Regions from separate parts of the Homo sapiens genome. Here region 1 is linked to region 2. The links come from fine-mapping of genetic effects on gene expression. Tissue or cell type: monocytes after LPS. Region 2 holds a variant in brackets; the other region holds the start of a gene. All regions are shown on one strand. Distances are between the middles of the regions.

Region 1 (8,102 bases), 72 kb before region 2:
CTCTGTGACTCACACCCTATTCATACACTCCCTCCCTTTTTGAAAATCACTAATAAAAACTTGCTGGTTTTGCGGCTTGTGGGGCATCATGGAACCTGCTGACAGTTGATTCGTGAGCCAAGCTCCCACTTCTCAATTCCATGGCCATTAAATAAAGCCTGCACTGCTTGATGCTCACTCTCAGTTTTGCGTACTGACTTTGTGACACCAAACGGAGAATAATACCTCATTTTTTTGAGAGGACCAGCTTTGTCCGTAACAGAGGCAGGAAGGTGGGCACAGGGAGTCTGATCTTTGTTCCAAGAGGAACAGAGCCTTTGGAGGTTTAATAGCAGAGAGGGCCATGTGATGTCTCAAACATCTCTGGGTGTAGTTGGAGGAGAGATTCCGGGGCCCGGAGAAGAGTGGGGTTATCTGTTAGGACAAACCTACAGCAGTGTCCACAGAGGGCTGCTGGTGGCCTGCTGGGAGATGGGGTTGCATTTGAAATGGAAAGAAGTTACTGTATTTGGAATATCCTTTGGAGTCAACTCCACAGGACTTGGAGGGGATTGATGTGGTGGGTGAGAGAGGTGACTAGGGTGGTCCAGCTGTCTGACTTCCTAACTGGCTATCCAGGGTGGATGGTGATGGCTTTCAGTGAGCTAGGGTGGAACTCCTCTTCTCCAGAGCATTTCAGAGCCCTACTGGTCACTTGTCACACCATGGGTTGGAAGACAAGGACCCTCTTCCTGTGTTTCAGAGTACTCATCTCCTCCAGGTGTGGATAAAACAGGTAAACACTTAGCACAGCAGCTGGTTCTCAACAAATGATAGCTGCCTGCTGGACCCCCTGCCTCTGGGTCACTCTCGTGGAGCTGTTGGCCTCTTGCTGCAGAGACCTATCACAAGCTGACACTCTTACTTCCTTGTGGGGGCATCTGGGACTCCTGCTGGGGTGGGGATATTTTGTCTCAACCTTGAACCTCCTCATCTTTATCTTGGAAGATGGAGCAAGAGGGGAAGAGAGCTGGCGCTCAGCAGAGGTTGTGCTTTTCTGAAGCCAGGGGAACTGGCCCTCCTCTAAACTAGCTGTGTGACCAGAGGCAAGTCTGCTTTCCTCTCCAGACCTCAGTTTACCTAACTATAAAATGGAGTGGGGCACAGGACTGGAGATTGCCTCTCAACCCCTCTATCTCCAAATCTCTGCATTTTTGTTTATGCTCAAAGGAACGTGGGTGGAGGCTGGGACCACCTTGCTCCTCAGGGTCAAATCCTGGGCCGTTGCCCAAGCCCCAGCCCACTCATTACATCTGTTTCAAACTCTTGCCACAGTCACCTTTTGGGGATAGACACCTCCACTTTGTCTTTCTGGCCTACCTGTCACAGGAGCCTTCCATGGGCTCTAGCTAGTCCAGCCTTTTCTCCTCCTGCCTGGGAGGCTCATGGCAGGCCGCCCCCTCCTGCCCATGCTCGTGCCATTCCCAACCAGGAACACTGCTTCCTCTCTGTCTCCCCTGTGGAAGCCTCAGCTTGGATCCACGGCAGTGAAATCTCCCTCTAAGCTTCTCCTTCCCAGAGTCCCCAGAGTCCCTGGGGTCCCCCCTGGCGACCTTGCATGTTCATTTAGAGCACATTTCTCTACCCTTTCCTTACCTGGTTTTCAGACTTTCTCTTGCCCATGTCAGGTTTCTCAATTGCTTGCTGGCTTCATGCAGCCAACACGGACTTTCTGCATCCCTCTCCCCCAGGGCCTTAGACTGAAACTGTTGTGTTGGGTGTTGGGAGAAACACCTAAGACATTCTCTCCTGCGCGAAGACTCAAGGAAGACACTGGGAAACCCAGACCTTGACTTCCTAGGAGGGTCCCCAGCTTACACCTGGGGATTTCTTCCTTTGGCCCCATTCACCTCCAAATCTGGGGCCACCTTGCCCTCTCCCCACCTTCTGGCCCAGACTCTGAGCTAGGCCCCCATGTCCCCTTTTCCTAACAAAGCCTTCCTCCATGGAAGAGAGCTTGGACACACAATACTTGCCGATAAAAGCAATCATTGTAGCCCCAGGGAAGGGGGCGGGGGTAAAGAAACGGGGAGAGGTTTTGCTCTCTGCTTGCCAAGGCTGGCTCCAGGGAAGGCCGCAGCCCACTCCAGCGAAGCAGGCTGCTGGGGCCCCAGCTGTGACCTGCTCCTCTTGACTTGCTTTCCTTGAGGCAGGAACAAGGGGGTGGAATGGAGCTGGGGCCCCTGAGTTTTCTAGGGGAGTCTTTCTGAGATGGCCCCACAGCAGAAAAGGGGCAATCCTTACGCCATGACTTTTTCCTTCTGTCCCGCAGGGTTCCCACTCTGCAGCTTGGAAAACTGAGACCCTGAGAAGGGAAGCCATTTTATCCAGAGATCATTTGGTGGGCTTGGGTTTGCAGAGGGCCAGAGCTGTGAAGCTCCAGCCTGGTCATCTCCCAGCCTTCTCTCTCTCTCTCTCTTTCTCTCTCTCTCTCTTTCTCTCTCTCTCTTTCCTATCTCTCTCTCTCTTTCCTCTCTCTCTCTCTCTCTCTCTCACACACACACACACACACACACACACACACACACACACCCTCTAACTTTCTTGCTCTGTCATCCCTCACACACAGAATCCTGTCTGGACCTTGACTTTGCACATCATTTTTTTTTTTTTTTGAGACAGGGTATTGCTCTGTCACCCAGGCTGGGTACAGTGGTGTGAGCTGAAGCTCAGCTCACTGCAGCTTCAGCCTCTCAGGCTAAAGCAACCCTTCCGCCTCAGCCTCCCAAAGTGTTGGGACTATAGGCGTGAGCCACTGCACGCAGCCAACACACATCTTAAAAGACCAGAAAGAGGAGAAAGAGGAACTCTATTCTTCCTGAATTTAATATAGATCAATTTGGTTGTGGCATTTCCAAATAACTGGATGCTCTGATGTAGCTTGGAATGCTTGGAATATAATATACTTTAGCTTTCTGAACCTGCTTCTTAAATGCACTGGTCCTCCAAAACCTTGGCATCATTTCCAAGATTCTTTATTCCATGGTTATTACAAAAAAATCTCCTTTCCACAACTCCCACCCCTGGATTGCTTGAAATATAGTTTATTTGCAAGTTATTAGTTACATATTTACAGAGTAAAGCAAGAGCATGGATCTTCTGTTGGGTTGTTTGTACTGACTCCTGACCTGGTCTCAACACCATTGCAAGACTAGCATCAAGTGCTCATCTCTCAGACTCTTGGTTCTTTCCACCTTGGGATGCCACAGTTGCTACTGGTGTCAGGGATGGAAGTGGAGGGCAGTTATCACTTATTGAGCATCTATTATGTGCTGTAGTTAACACCCATTTCACAGATAAGACAACTGAGGCTCAGAGCTAGGATTTCAATCAGGGCTGTCTGACTCTGAAGCCAGGGCTCTCTCCTCACCGGCTCAGCCCTGCTCTTGGCTAGGACACAGGTCAGTCGTGCACCCTGGGCTGGAGTCTGGAAAATGGGTAGATCCAAGGGGTCGATGGTTAGTGAGGGCATCAAGACCATAGTGAAAGAAAGAGGGAGTCTCCCTCTACCGGGAGGTTCACTGTCCACCACACTCCCAAATGCAGCCGGACACCCCTTGGGCTCCTGGCTCTGGAACAGAAACAGAGAGCAGGCCCTGCGGCCAAGAAAGGGGGCGGAGCAGCCATAGAAAGCGGCTTTGGGCCACCACTCCGGGGATCCCAGGCGTCTGAGGGGACAATCGGTCCGTGCGCCAGGAACCCCTGCTCTGTCTCCGCGTGGCACTTCCGATCCCCGGCCGCAGGCAGCTGCACTCCCCAGCCGCGCGCCCCGCCCCCGGGCGCCCGGCGCCCCAGCTCCGACCCGCGCCCGGCCCCGCCCCGCCCAGTGTGCCCACCCCCGGCCCGTCCCGCCGCCCCGTCGCCCGGCTCCCGCGGAGTCCCGGAGCGTCACTGCGCGGGCGGGCTGACCGACCAGCCGGCAGTTGGCACCGGGTGCGCTGGCGCGTCAGTGGCCCCGCTCTCCAGCCGGCAGCCTCGCGCGCCCGGAGCCAGCGGTCCAGGCGGCGGCGCCGCGCAGGGGACCCGGAGCAGGCGGGAGGGAAGCAGCTAGGCGGGGAGGCGGCTGAGGCGGCAGCGGCGGCAGCCAGCCGGTGCTCCGACAGCCCGGGGCGCACCCTAGCCTCGCCGCCCTCAGCCTGGGACTTGGGGATCGGGCGCTTGCCCAGCCCGCGTCCCAGCGCGGCCACATGGCTCCACTCCGCGCGCTGCTGTCCTACCTGCTGCCTTTGCACTGTGCGCTCTGCGCCGCCGCGGGCAGCCGGACCCCAGGTGCGTGCGGGTTGGGCGCGCGGGGGCCCGTGGGGTCCGGGGTGCACGCGGTCAGGGTGGCCCAAGGTTGCCCCAGCCACCCGGGCAGGGTTCCCGCGGGTGGGAGGCAGTATGCACACTCTGGGCTGATTTGCTGTCTTTTCTTCCACTGTGCCACGGCACTGTCCCGTGATTTCTCTCCCTTTCTGGTACTAGAAGTAGACAGAGACCCCAGGAGAGAATTTGGGAGCATCGAGTCTCTTCTCGGGAGCAGCGCATCTGTCTCTTTGTCTCTCTGTGTTTCTTCTTTCCCCTCTTCCCCAATCTGTTTCTCTGTCCTGTGTGTCTTTCTCTTTCAATGTCTTTTCTGTCTCCAACTTGTGTGAGCATGGGTGCAAGGGGTGTGTGTGTGTGTGTGTCTGTGTGTGGCTGTTACATACCCAGCATAAGGCTAACAGGTGATTGCCTCCTACAGCAGAGCATGCGGGGCACTCACGCTCCTGCACAGAAACACACATCCTTCCACTGCCCCCAACGTAGCACTGTCAAACGCTGTGGACACAGGTCTCTTGCATACAGACCAGATACACTCCACTCCCGCCCTGCAGCATGGGGTACCCTCCTGGTGGCTCTGAACATGGGGAGGAGTCACCGGTCATTTCCAGGCAGGGTCCCTCCTTGTTTGTGAGCCTTGTTCATGTGCCAGAGTGGGTCCCCTCTTGCAGCAGTCTTAGGGGTCCTCTGCTATAATGGGGATGAAACTAGAGCTGTGGGCATGGGGGATTTTCAGGAAACACCACTTTCTATGTTTCATCAGTGACGTGAACTGGGGAGACGAGAGGTAGAGCTGTGTGGAAATGAAAATTCCTCCCAAACTCGCATTCATGAATCACCAGGCCTGGAAGCCAGGGAGCTGTCATTCCTGCCCAGCCTGGCTGGGCTCAAGGAGAGCTGCGTGAGGATGGGCCTGCTGGCATGTGGCCTGGAGCATGGGGCCATGACCTCACAGTTAATTCAGCCCAAGTGGGCAGGTCACCCCCTGTATATCCTTTTATTTTTGAAGATCTATATTTATCCAGCTTGGGGCTCGGCCATACAGAGATCTCAGCGGCCACTGTCCTCCTGTAAAAAGTTTTCTTTCTAACCTTGGAAAAATAGAGAACCGCTCCCCTCTGCAGCCCCACCTTCTCCTTGACACGTGCCCATGGTCCCCTGGGTTTCTAGGTGTGTTTGTTTTGCCAGCTGCGTTCTTGGAAGTTTGGGGAGGAGGGCACTACCCCAGCCTGGGCTGGTGACTTCAGCACACTGGGGAGTTTGGGCAGATCTGCCCTTCCCTTTATTTGCCCTGTTGGCTTTTGGGGAATTTTAGTCCTTTTCTGGGCAGAGCCCAAGGTCGGAAGTCTTGTTGCTAGTGACCGGGCTCTGTCTGGTATCATTTGCTTTCTTCTGCTAAGTTTAAAAAGGACCTGGGGGCTACAGGGAGTGCCACAAGGTACCCGAACACCCTTCATCCAAGTGTAGGAATCCTGGAGCTCAGGAAGCAATGGATGGAAAATGGGTGAACTCAGGCTAAGGGGCCCACCTAAGGGTGACACTGAGAGTTCCTATCCCTCCCTGCCCGCGTGGGATTTCTGACTTCCCCTTACCTCTGAACCGACTGCATTGAAGTGACTCTTTGTTTACCTCCAACAGAGCTGCACCTCTCTGGAAAGCTCAGTGACTATGGTGTGACAGTGCCCTGCAGCACAGACTTTCGGGGACGCTTCCTCTCCCACGTGGTGTCTGGCCCAGCAGCAGCCTCTGCAGGGAGCATGGTAGTGGACACGCCACCCACACTACCACGACACTCCAGTCACCTCCGGGTGGCTCGCAGCCCTCTGCACCCAGGAGGGACCCTGTGGCCTGGCAGGGTGGGGCGCCACTCCCTCTACTTCAATGTCACTGTTTTCGGGAAGGAACTGCACTTGCGCCTGCGGCCCAATCGGAGGTTGGTAGTGCCAGGATCCTCAGTGGAGTGGCAGGAGGATTTTCGGGAGCTGTTCCGGCAGCCCTTACGGCAGGAGTGTGTGTACACTGGAGGTGTCACTGGAATGCCTGGGGCAGCTGTTGCCATCAGCAACTGTGACGGATTGGTAAGGGATGAGACTTTCATTAAGCTGCATCCTCCCCCTCCCATGCCCTGCTCACATGGTTTTGAGATTGCTATGGGCATGTTTTGCAGTCTGGGCCAAGGCAGGGGTGGTGCTGCCTTCCAGAGGGAGTGCCGCCTGCCCCCGCGGGCCACTAGGTTCATGCGCTGCCAGGTGTGAAGTGGCCAAGTTGGGATGATGTTCACCCCTCGCCTTCCATGGACCCAGCTGGATCACAAGCTGTTTGGCTGGTGTTTCTGAGTGCAGAGAGACACTGGGGTTGGAAGTGTGGCTGAGCCACTGCCTAGCTGTGAGGATTTGGATGAGTTAACCTCTCTGTGGTTCTTTCCCTTATTTATTTTGCACATATTTACTGTTCTAGATGCTGGGGGTACAGTGGTGCCTGAGACAGACGTGGCTTCTGCTCTCCTGGAGCTGACCCGCGAGTGTTAATGATATGGCCTGCCTAACTGGGCAGTGCACTGGGGGCTGTCCCTGCCTGGCTCGTGGCGTGGGCACAGTTAGCGGCTGCTATTATGTCTTGTAACATTGCGACGTCGTGTCCTTCCTCTTCTCCTCCCTGTCTCTCCTCCCAGAGCCAGCCTGCTCTTTCCTGGCTGCTCTGTGTGTCCCTTTCCTAGGACCCCCACTGCTTCCGCAATGCTTCCCAGAGTCTGGGAGCGCCTCTGCTAGTTGGCTCCACATTGCAAACCAGAAAGCCATGGGGTGGGCTGTCTTTCTCGCCCCCACCTGGGGTTGGCTCTCATTCCCCTCGCTGCTCCTCCTCAGTGTGCAGGCCCTTGTGAGCTGGCACAGCAGCCTCAAGGTCCTGTTGGGCAGCTCTTCCCTGCCCCAGAGACATCAGATGTGAGCTGATGGGTCTCAAGAAGGGGCCCGCTTGCTCCTCTGCCCTTCAGCTTTGAGAGCGAGAAAATTTGAGATGGGGAGGGGTTGTGGGTTCCTTCCTCACTGGCAGGGTGGGGAGCATTTGTCACCATTGTCTCATGTGTAGGAGATGTCTTATCTGCTGATTTCGTGGCTGCCTCTGTCTAGGCCAGTGCTTTCCACCTTTTATCATGATGTACCCCTAAATGTTTTAGACATTTCCTCCCAATCATCAGTCTACCCCACGATGAGGTTTTTTTTTTTTTTTAGAGGTGGATTTTCACTATGTTGCCCAGGCTGGAGTGCAGTGGCTATTCACAGGCACAAACACAGGGCACTGCAGCCTCGAACTCCTGGCCTCCAGCCATCCTTCTGCCTCCGCATCCCAGGAGCTGGGGCTATAGGTGCTTGTCACTGTGCCTGGCTTTCCTCATGCAATTTTAATACCACAGATATACTGAATATCTGTTTATACACTGAATATCCATCTGTGTTTTATATATTCAAAGGTGTAATATTTTTGCCTTCCCCAGAATAAATTTTCATCCCATTGAAGGTGGTAGGGCCCTCATGGAGAGGGCTTATCTACATGGTAGTTGGTTCTCATAGTTGAGCATGCACTAGAATCACCTGAGCACCTTGTCAGGTGCGCAGAATCTGCCTCTCAGGGGAGGGACCAGGATCTGATCATTACCAAACTCTGCAGGTGAACTGATTCAAGAGTTCCTGAGAGCGGACTTCGAGAAAGCAGATTGTCAGGGCAGCTGGGGGAGCCTAAGGCCTTGTCAGGTGTCTGGGCTG
Region 2 (8,104 bases):
TGGGGGCCTGCTCTATGCCAGGGCCTGCAAAACAGTTGAAGGCACCCACAAAGATGAGTAAGATGGATTTCTCTTCCAGTCCAGCTGGAGAGGGTTAGTCAGTCCCTGTGTCAGTCTGTACATCTGTCCGTCACACTCACCGTGGAATAGGTGGTGTATGTCTGAAGGGTAAAGCAGTCAGGGAGGAAGAAGGATCTGGATAGCTCTTCAGCTGAGCTCCACAGCCCCCACCCTGGGAGCCATTCTCTGGTTTATGTCAGTGGAGGCCCTTGTCATGCTATTATGAATGGCTGAGCTGCTCCTGGTGGCTGTGTGGGAAACCTGGCCCTCCCCAGCCTTCCCAGCCAGCAAGGTCATCCATTTCTCTGTGTCTGTCCCAGCCCAGCCTATGGAGGCCGCCTGTGCTTAGGGCCCATGTTCGAGTACCAGGTCTGCAACAGCGAGGAGTGCCCTGGGACCTACGAGGACTTCCGGGCCCAGCAGTGTGCCAAGCGCAACTCCTACTATGTGCACCAGAATGCCAAGCACAGCTGGGTGCCCTACGAGCCTGACGATGGTGAGTGGGCCCCACCCCCCTCCCACTCCATGTCCTTAGGCATCTGCGGGGGCTGTGTGTGCCCAGGCAGGGCCTCCTACCCCTACATACACCAGTGAAGGTGGAGGGACAGTGGGGGTGCCAAAAGGGACACTGAAGTCAGCGGGCTCACCATATACCCTTTTGTAGGCCTGTTCTTGGTATACTTCTGGGGTCATCATCCCCATCAAGGCCATCCCTGATTTGTGTACTTATGATGACAGTTTTCTGGCAGATGCAAGGAAAGTGTCTTGAGGAAGGGACACTTCACACACAGGTGTTGCCAAGGCCGGCAGCAGTGTTGGCTGTTAGGGTTGCCTGCCTTTCGTCTTCTGTCCCTACCTGCAGGGAGAAGAATTATATAGGTGCAGGCGCCCTTCCCGTTGCATGACCAGTGTCCTGAGGAGCTCAGTCCTATTACACGCTGTGTTTTTAGGTTTTACTGATTGGGTTGTGGTTTCAGCAGAGTCGATGAGATGATTTTGGAAGGCACGCAGATAGGATCTGGTGGGATCTTCATAACGACTCTCTAGGCTGCCCTGGGACATACACAGGACTTCTAGACTCCTGTAAAGAGTCTGAATTTGGGGACCATAGTGGTGCCAGTTCCCATCTATTTTTGAGTGTTTCCAGTGATGGCTCCATAGCGGCAGAGCATCCAGTGAAGGGTTGGGATTCGTGGCAAGTCAGAGCCTCGGCTGGAAGAGCCCTCAATGATCCTCTGATTCCAGCTTTCCCCTGCCAGCCTCTCCATGGGTCCTCCATGGACAGATGCTCATTCTCCATCACACAACTCTTGGCCCAGACAGCTCCCATCAGGACGGGCTTTCCTCCCTGGAGCCTGGGCTCCACCCCAGAACTGTCAGCTCTTCAGCTCTGGTCTAGAATGACAGACTCTTCAGGTTGGAAGGGACCTCAGAGGCCTGTCATTGCCAGATTCTTCCAGAGCATCCTTGCAGGGGGTGTCTTCTCTCTGCTTGGATTCCTCCTACTCTGGGGAGCTCACCACTCCCTTCGCACTGTTGCTGCCCAGAGAGCTTCCGTTGCTGCCCAGAGAGCTGCCTGCCTGGGTCAGGATCCTGCCTGTCCTGGGTTGGAGCTCCCCCAGACCCAGGTCCCTACAGGAATCTGGTTCCTGTGGATGAAATCCAAGGTGGTCTTGGAGGTTGTGGCTTCCGTTGCTGCCTAGAGAGCTGCCTGCCTGGGTCAGGATCCTGCCTGTCCTGGGTTGGAGCTCCCCCAGACCCAGGTCCCTACAGGAATCTGGTTCCTGTGGATGAAATCCAAGGTGGTCTTGGAGGTTGTGGCTCCAGACTTGAGTCCTTCATGCTGGAGACAAGGAGTTACCAGCTGTGCTGGAGCCCAGGGACCAGAGCAGAGCCCAAGAGTTTCCTTAGTAATTGGCTGAGGGAATCTTGGTTTGAAAGCCTTCCAGATCCATTCAGAAACCAAACCAGCAGCCACAGCGTTGGGGAGAGGAGGGGCTGGGAGGCCCGTGGGGCAGCTGGACTTTGGGTTTTTCCCAGGACTGTTAGACGAATTCCAGGAAGTTAGCTAAGCCCCCAACTTCCTTTTTTCTAAGAAGCACAGTAAGTGTTTATATATGCTCTGGAACCTCCTTTTTAGGATATCTATAGCCCACATAAAGAAGGAAACATTTAATTGTTAGGACCAGAAAGGACTCTCTTTCTCCCTGACTGTTGCTCCATTTTGCAAACCCAGATACAGACCACTTTTCTGCCTTTTTTTCACGCAGCCTTCTAATGTTTACAAACATGTTAAGACGCATGTCATACATGTGCACAGTGAAGTTTTGTAGGGGTCAGAGCAGGACTCAGGCAAGACTGCTAAGGTTAGAATCCAGGCTGAACCACTTATCGTGTGGTTGTGTGGACTTGAGCAAGTTCCTTAACCTCTCTGGTCCTCAATTTCCTCCTCTGTAATGCTAGCACCTACCTCATTGAGGTGTTGAGAGGGTTAAATGAGTTAATTCATGAAAAGCCATTAAAGCTGTATTTTAAGGGCATGTGAAGGTTTTAGAAATATCTAGTACATAGTAAGCATTCACTAAGCATTGGCTTATTATTACTTTATCACTTGATTTTTCTCAATAAGCCGATGTGGCATTTTACTGATTAGGGATAATAAAAATAGGGAACAAAGGCTGGGAGAGGTCAGAGCATTTACCCAAGGTCACATGGCTAATAAGTGACACAGCAGGGATTTTCAGCCCCCGTGCCACACCCAGTGCTCCCCCAACTGTCCAGAGCTGGCCCCGGAGCTTTCTGGCTGGACCACATACTGATCTGTCCTGGGCCACTTTCTCTGAGCCCAGCTGGGGACTCAGCATAGTCCCTCTCCCTACAGACGCCCAGAAGTGTGAGCTGATCTGCCAGTCGGCGGACACGGGGGACGTGGTGTTCATGAACCAGGTGGTTCACGATGGGACACGCTGCAGCTACCGGGACCCATACAGCGTCTGTGCGCGTGGCGAGTGTGTGGTGGGTGCACCCCCAGCCACCCCGACTACCGGCACAGGGAGACTGGAGGGCTGCACTGTAGCCCCTCCTGCCTGGGAAGATGAGCATTGCCTCACCGGCCCACT[C/T]GCAACACCCTGTTGGTCCTCAGCATAGCCCTGGGGTGCTGGAAGGGGCTAATTATTGCTCAGCCCCATTGGAGGGGAGAGGAGATGGCAAGAATCCTCATCACGCCGGGTGTAAGACCTCACCCAGGTCCCACGGTGAATTCGTGCCAGAATCCTGTCCAGGGACATCTCCCAGGCCAGAGGTCTTCTCCTGACCAGGGCCTGGGGATGGGAATGGGAGCCCCGGGGTGGCGGTGGGGGCAGGGGAGCCTCCTCCCACTGACCTCACCTCTGGCCTCAGCCTGTCGGCTGTGACAAGGAGGTGGGGTCCATGAAGGCGGATGACAAGTGTGGAGTCTGCGGGGGTGACAACTCCCACTGCAGGACTGTGAAGGGGACGCTGGGCAAGGCCTCCAAGCAGGCAGGTGAGCCGGGCTGGGGCTGGGGGGATGACGAGGGCTGACTGGAGTTCTTGCCGTCCCTCAGGGGGCCCTCCCTCCTTGAACTGTGCCACAGTCTGGGGTGGGGAGAAGGGGCCCTGGGGCCCATCTCCAGGCCTTCCTGGGCTGCCCAGGCTGGTGAGCCAGGTGCTGCAGCCAGTCACCTCACCTTTCAGGCAAGCTCCTCCCTGAGTTTGGGGCCCAGGAGCTCCAAGAGACATTTTCCCGCTAGGTAAAGTTTTGTGATGGGAGCTCGGCCATCCCTTGGACCTTGGGACTATTGGTGGGTGGGAGGCATCAGACAGATCTAAAGGTGTAGCCAAGACTGGACTGATAATTTTCTTTTCCTCTCTCCTTCCTTATTTTTTTTTAAACCTGTGGCACTTTCTGCTTTGAATTCCTGGTATCTTTGAGTTCCTTGACTTTCCTCTCTACCTCCAATCTGACCAGACTTGCTGTGGAAAAGAACCAGATATCAGTCCTTCACACTTTAGTATAAATGGGGCCTATTTTCCCTTGGGAGATGTTACACTTTGTCTCACCTTTGATTGTTGGGGACAAGGTTGGTGGCTCTGAGAAAGTCCAGGCCTTGGGTCGGGAGGGCCAGGGCGGCTCAGGACAGTCATGTGGAGTCTTCATGGCCTTTATCATTTAAATCCCATCAGTAGCAAGTAGCTTAAGGTGTGAGAAGAAGCAGGGAGAGAGAGTCAGAGGAGCAAAAAGGGACGGGGGGAAGGGCAGAAGTGAGACGGAGAGGAAGAGGGTCAGGAAAGAGGGAAGTAATAGCAGCTCTCACACACACGGAGGCCCTTAGAGTTTACAGGACATGTCTCATTCGATCCTCCCAGCACCCTCATGGAGAAGGTCTCATCCTCAGTTTACAAATGAGGATACAGAGATTCAGAGAGGTTCTGTGATCAAATGAGATGTTCCTGGGTGCCCAGTGAGGGAGTGGGGGACGCTGGGCAGTGGGACCACCAGCTTAGGATGCTCACGACTTCTGGATCCCTGTGTGTGGCAGGAGCTCTCAAGCTGGTGCAGATCCCAGCAGGTGCCAGGCACATCCAGATTGAGGCACTGGAGAAGTCCCCCCACCGCATTGGTGAGTGCTGGGGTGCTGGGAGGGGACAGCAGGGCCCCAGGCCCTGCCCTCTGACTTGGGGGAGCTGGGAGACCAGAGGACAAGATTCTAGTACAAGTGGAATTGTACTAACTGGAGTAATGGGCAGAGACCCCCTTTTCATTTTATTTTAAATTTATGCTGCATGGGTAACCCATTCCATGGTTTACATTTCAGAAGGTCTCAAAGGGGACCTAGTAAAGAGTCCCCTTTCTACCCCTGTACCCTGGGGGCAGTTTTCTTCCCTAAGGGCAACTACTGTTAATAATTTCTTGTGCACATAGATGGCTGTTAAAGGAAAGCCATGTTCACAGAGTGTATCAGTCAGCTTTTGCTGCCTAACACACCACTCCAAAACTTAGTGGCTTCAAACAAGAATAATTCTTAGCTCACGGTCCTATGGGTCATCAGTTTGGGCTGGGCTCTGTGGGGTGGTTCTTCTACTTGTCTTCTTGGACCAAGTCATGCAGATGCCCTCAGCTGGTAGGTCTCTGGGAGCTGGTTGGTCTAGGATGGCCTCGCTCACATGTCTGGTGGTTGGTACTGGCTGTCAGCTGGGGTCATGGAGGTGGCAGGGCTGTGTCCTCAACAGGCTAACCCAGTGTTATTCACATTATATCTGTCACATAGTCCTCAGGAATGGCTTGTGTCATGTTTTCTAGCGTCCCATTAGTCCAAATCACATGGACAAGCCCAGATTTAAGGGGTAGAAACATAGACTAGCTCTTGATGGTAGAAGTGGTGAAGTTACTGTGCAAAGCAGCATGCATAGAGGAATAGGAGGAATGTAGAGGCATTCTGCAGTCTACCACACAGGCCCTTACATTATTCTCATTATAATCATACTTAAACACCAAGCCACTAAATGAGGTGACACCCTTGTGCTTGTAACAGTTATCTAACTATGAAGCTAGGCTCGATTAAAAATGAGAATACCACAATAAGTTAATAAATTTAAATTAAGGCCATTAATATAATATGAGTGATGTTTTGTTTCGTTTTTGCTGAAACTAAATTGGCTGTCAAAAAATGGACATGTCCAGAGAGGCAAATCCACAGACAGAGAGAGAATAGATCCGTGGCTGCCAGGGGCTGGGGAAGGAAAGAGGCATGACGGCTAATGGGTATCAGGTTTCTTTTTGGGGCGATGAAAATGTTCTGGAATTAGACAGTGGCAATGGCTGAATCTACTTAAAAATCAGGGCAGGCGCAGCGGCTCACGCCTGTAATCCCAACACTTTGGGAGGCCAAGGTGGGTGGATCGCTTGAGCTCAGAAGTTTGAGATCAGCCTGGGGAACATGGTGAAATCCCATCTCTACAAAAATAAAAAATAAACAATCAGCTAGGCGTGGTGGTGCATGCCTGTAGTCCTAAGCTAGTTGGGGGACTGAGGCAGGAGCGTCTCAAAAAAAATTTTTTTTTCACTGAATTGTACACCTTATTCGAGTGAGTTGTATGGCATGTGAATTATATCTCGGTTCAAACCCTGTGAGCCTGGTTCAGAGCAGGGTCCCGGTGGCAAGTGGGCAGAAGGCTGCTTCTCCCACACTGGGCAGTGGTGTCTGTGTTCAGACCCCTTTGCAGAGGACGTGCAGGCCACAATGTCCCCTTGAAATGTCACAGAGGCCCCTCTTACCTATTACGTCTGCCAAGTCACACTGCTTGGTGCCAATTTCATCATAAATGGAAAAACAAAACACATATCTCTTGGCAGGCTCACATCACACACAAATGCTGCCATTCATATTTTTAGATTATCATCAAAATAGCAATTTGTAAATACCTTCAAAGTTTCCTGGATAACTTGCATTTCCTGGAGAATGCATCTGCATTGGCACCTCCCCTTAACACAGCTCCAGTGGGCTCCTAAACTTCTATTCTTGAAGGCATCTGAAAGGGCATTGTCCCATCAGGCCATAGGCACAAGGGGAAACTGAAACCCAAAGTGGATTGGGGGCCTCTGTATGCCCTGATTCATCCATGAGGAGTATGGGCAGAGCCAGTCTGGGCCCAGGTCTCCTGCCTCTCAGCCCTGTTCCCTTGCCAGCCATGCCACTCTACCACAGCGAGCCCAGGTTAGAGGACATTGGTTCAGGCAAGTCCTGCCTGCTGTGCCTGCCTGGCTGTGGGGAATGTGCTGGAATTAGGGGCCGGGGGAGGGAAGGGGCAAGGAGAGAAGGGACATCTATTCCAAGAAGAGGTGGAGCTCACGGACACTGCATCCCCAGGGGATGATTTCAGAACATTAGCAGCCCCTTCCACCCTCTGCTGTCTCCAGAAATCTAGTTCTTCGATCCCCAGGGAAGAACTAGTCTTCTGTGGAGGTCATGGCAGAGGCTGCTAGCATCCGGGGCAGGCCGAGTGCGGGCTTGCTTGCCTGTTTGTCGGGTGAGTTCCCTGAAAGGTTAGAGTTTTCCGGGGAGCCTGGTGGGGAGAGCGAAGCAGTGGCGGCCCAGGAGCTGAACTCTGAAGTTGGCACAGGTTGTGTGATTATACAGGTGTGAGGTGCACAGTGGCCTTCAGTGAAAACGTGTGAATATGTGTGTGTGAGTGTGTGCATGCACGTGCATGCACGTGTAGGGGTGTGTGTACCCAACAGGATATGTAGAGGCCCAGGACAGGTGGCAGCCCTGGCGATGAAGGGAGAGGCTCTGTCCATTGTCATTAGACTCTCCTGGAATTGGGGACATGGGGTCTTTGAAAGGAAGTGTAGGGAAGAGAAGGAGAACTCATGCTGTTAATATCTCCCATGCGCTGGGCCATGAGCTGCCACTTTTCATGCGTATGTTTAGTAAGCCTCATGGCCATCTATGAATATTGTTTTCCCGCTTTGCAGTTAAAGGAAACTGAGGCTCAGAGAGAGGTTAGATACAGAACAGGTCAGTGGTGGAGCCTGGATTCGGGACTGGGTCTGGACAGTGGAGAGTTTATGGTGGTCCACCCCCAACGGTCTGGAATGAGGGGTGCATAATCAGGGCTCTGCTACAGTGAGGTGCAGGCACAGTCAAAGGCAATGGGAGAACTGGAGGCTGCACCTGGCCTGAGGAGCTGCCCAGCCTTAGCTTAGACAGTCTGGAGCTGCTGGGGACTGAGAGCGATCAGGGAACCTGAGGGAGAGGCCTGGGTGGGCAGGAGGCGAGGGGCATCTCTCCAGCAGCCTCCCAGGAAGGGGCGAGGCTCTTCTTTTTCCACCCCTCTTCCCCACCCTCACCCTGCCCCTACATTGCTCCTGTCTCTCTGGGTGCCTGGGCTCTGGCCCAGCTCCAACTGTTGCCCACTGTGTGTCCAGGACACTGTGTGTCTAGGAGTCTCCAATTCCCCATCTGTATTAACAATAGCCCAGCCCTTAGGATGTATTTAAGGATTGAACTGAAGCAGTTGGCAG

What was found. PIP is the estimated chance that this variant, and not a neighbour inherited with it, causes the effect.
Region 1: it holds the start of ADAMTS14, and the variant in region 2 is fine-mapped to the expression of ADAMTS14 in monocytes after LPS (Quach 2016, PIP 0.95).

Annotation. Positions count from the first base shown.
Region 1 is chr10:70,668,577-70,676,678 of GRCh38, forward strand. It overlaps ADAMTS14 (ADAM metallopeptidase with thrombospondin type 1 motif 14), which reads left to right and starts at 3,930. Exons shown (of 22, transcript NM_080722.4): 1 at 3,930-4,308; 2 at 5,980-6,419. The coding sequence starts at 4,227. RefSeq lists a silencer at 2,517-2,811.
Region 2 is chr10:70,740,607-70,748,710 of GRCh38, forward strand. ADAMTS14 (ADAM metallopeptidase with thrombospondin type 1 motif 14) reads left to right here. Exons shown (of 22, transcript NM_080722.4): 12 at 381-556; 13 at 2,942-3,075; 14 at 3,460-3,583; 15 at 4,620-4,700. Among named protein-coding and RNA genes, the nearest start is that of TBATA, 41 kb to the right of the region's middle. RefSeq lists enhancers at 1,927-2,221, 2,461-3,264, 4,796-4,965. The variant C/T (reference allele first, on the strand shown) is at 3,180.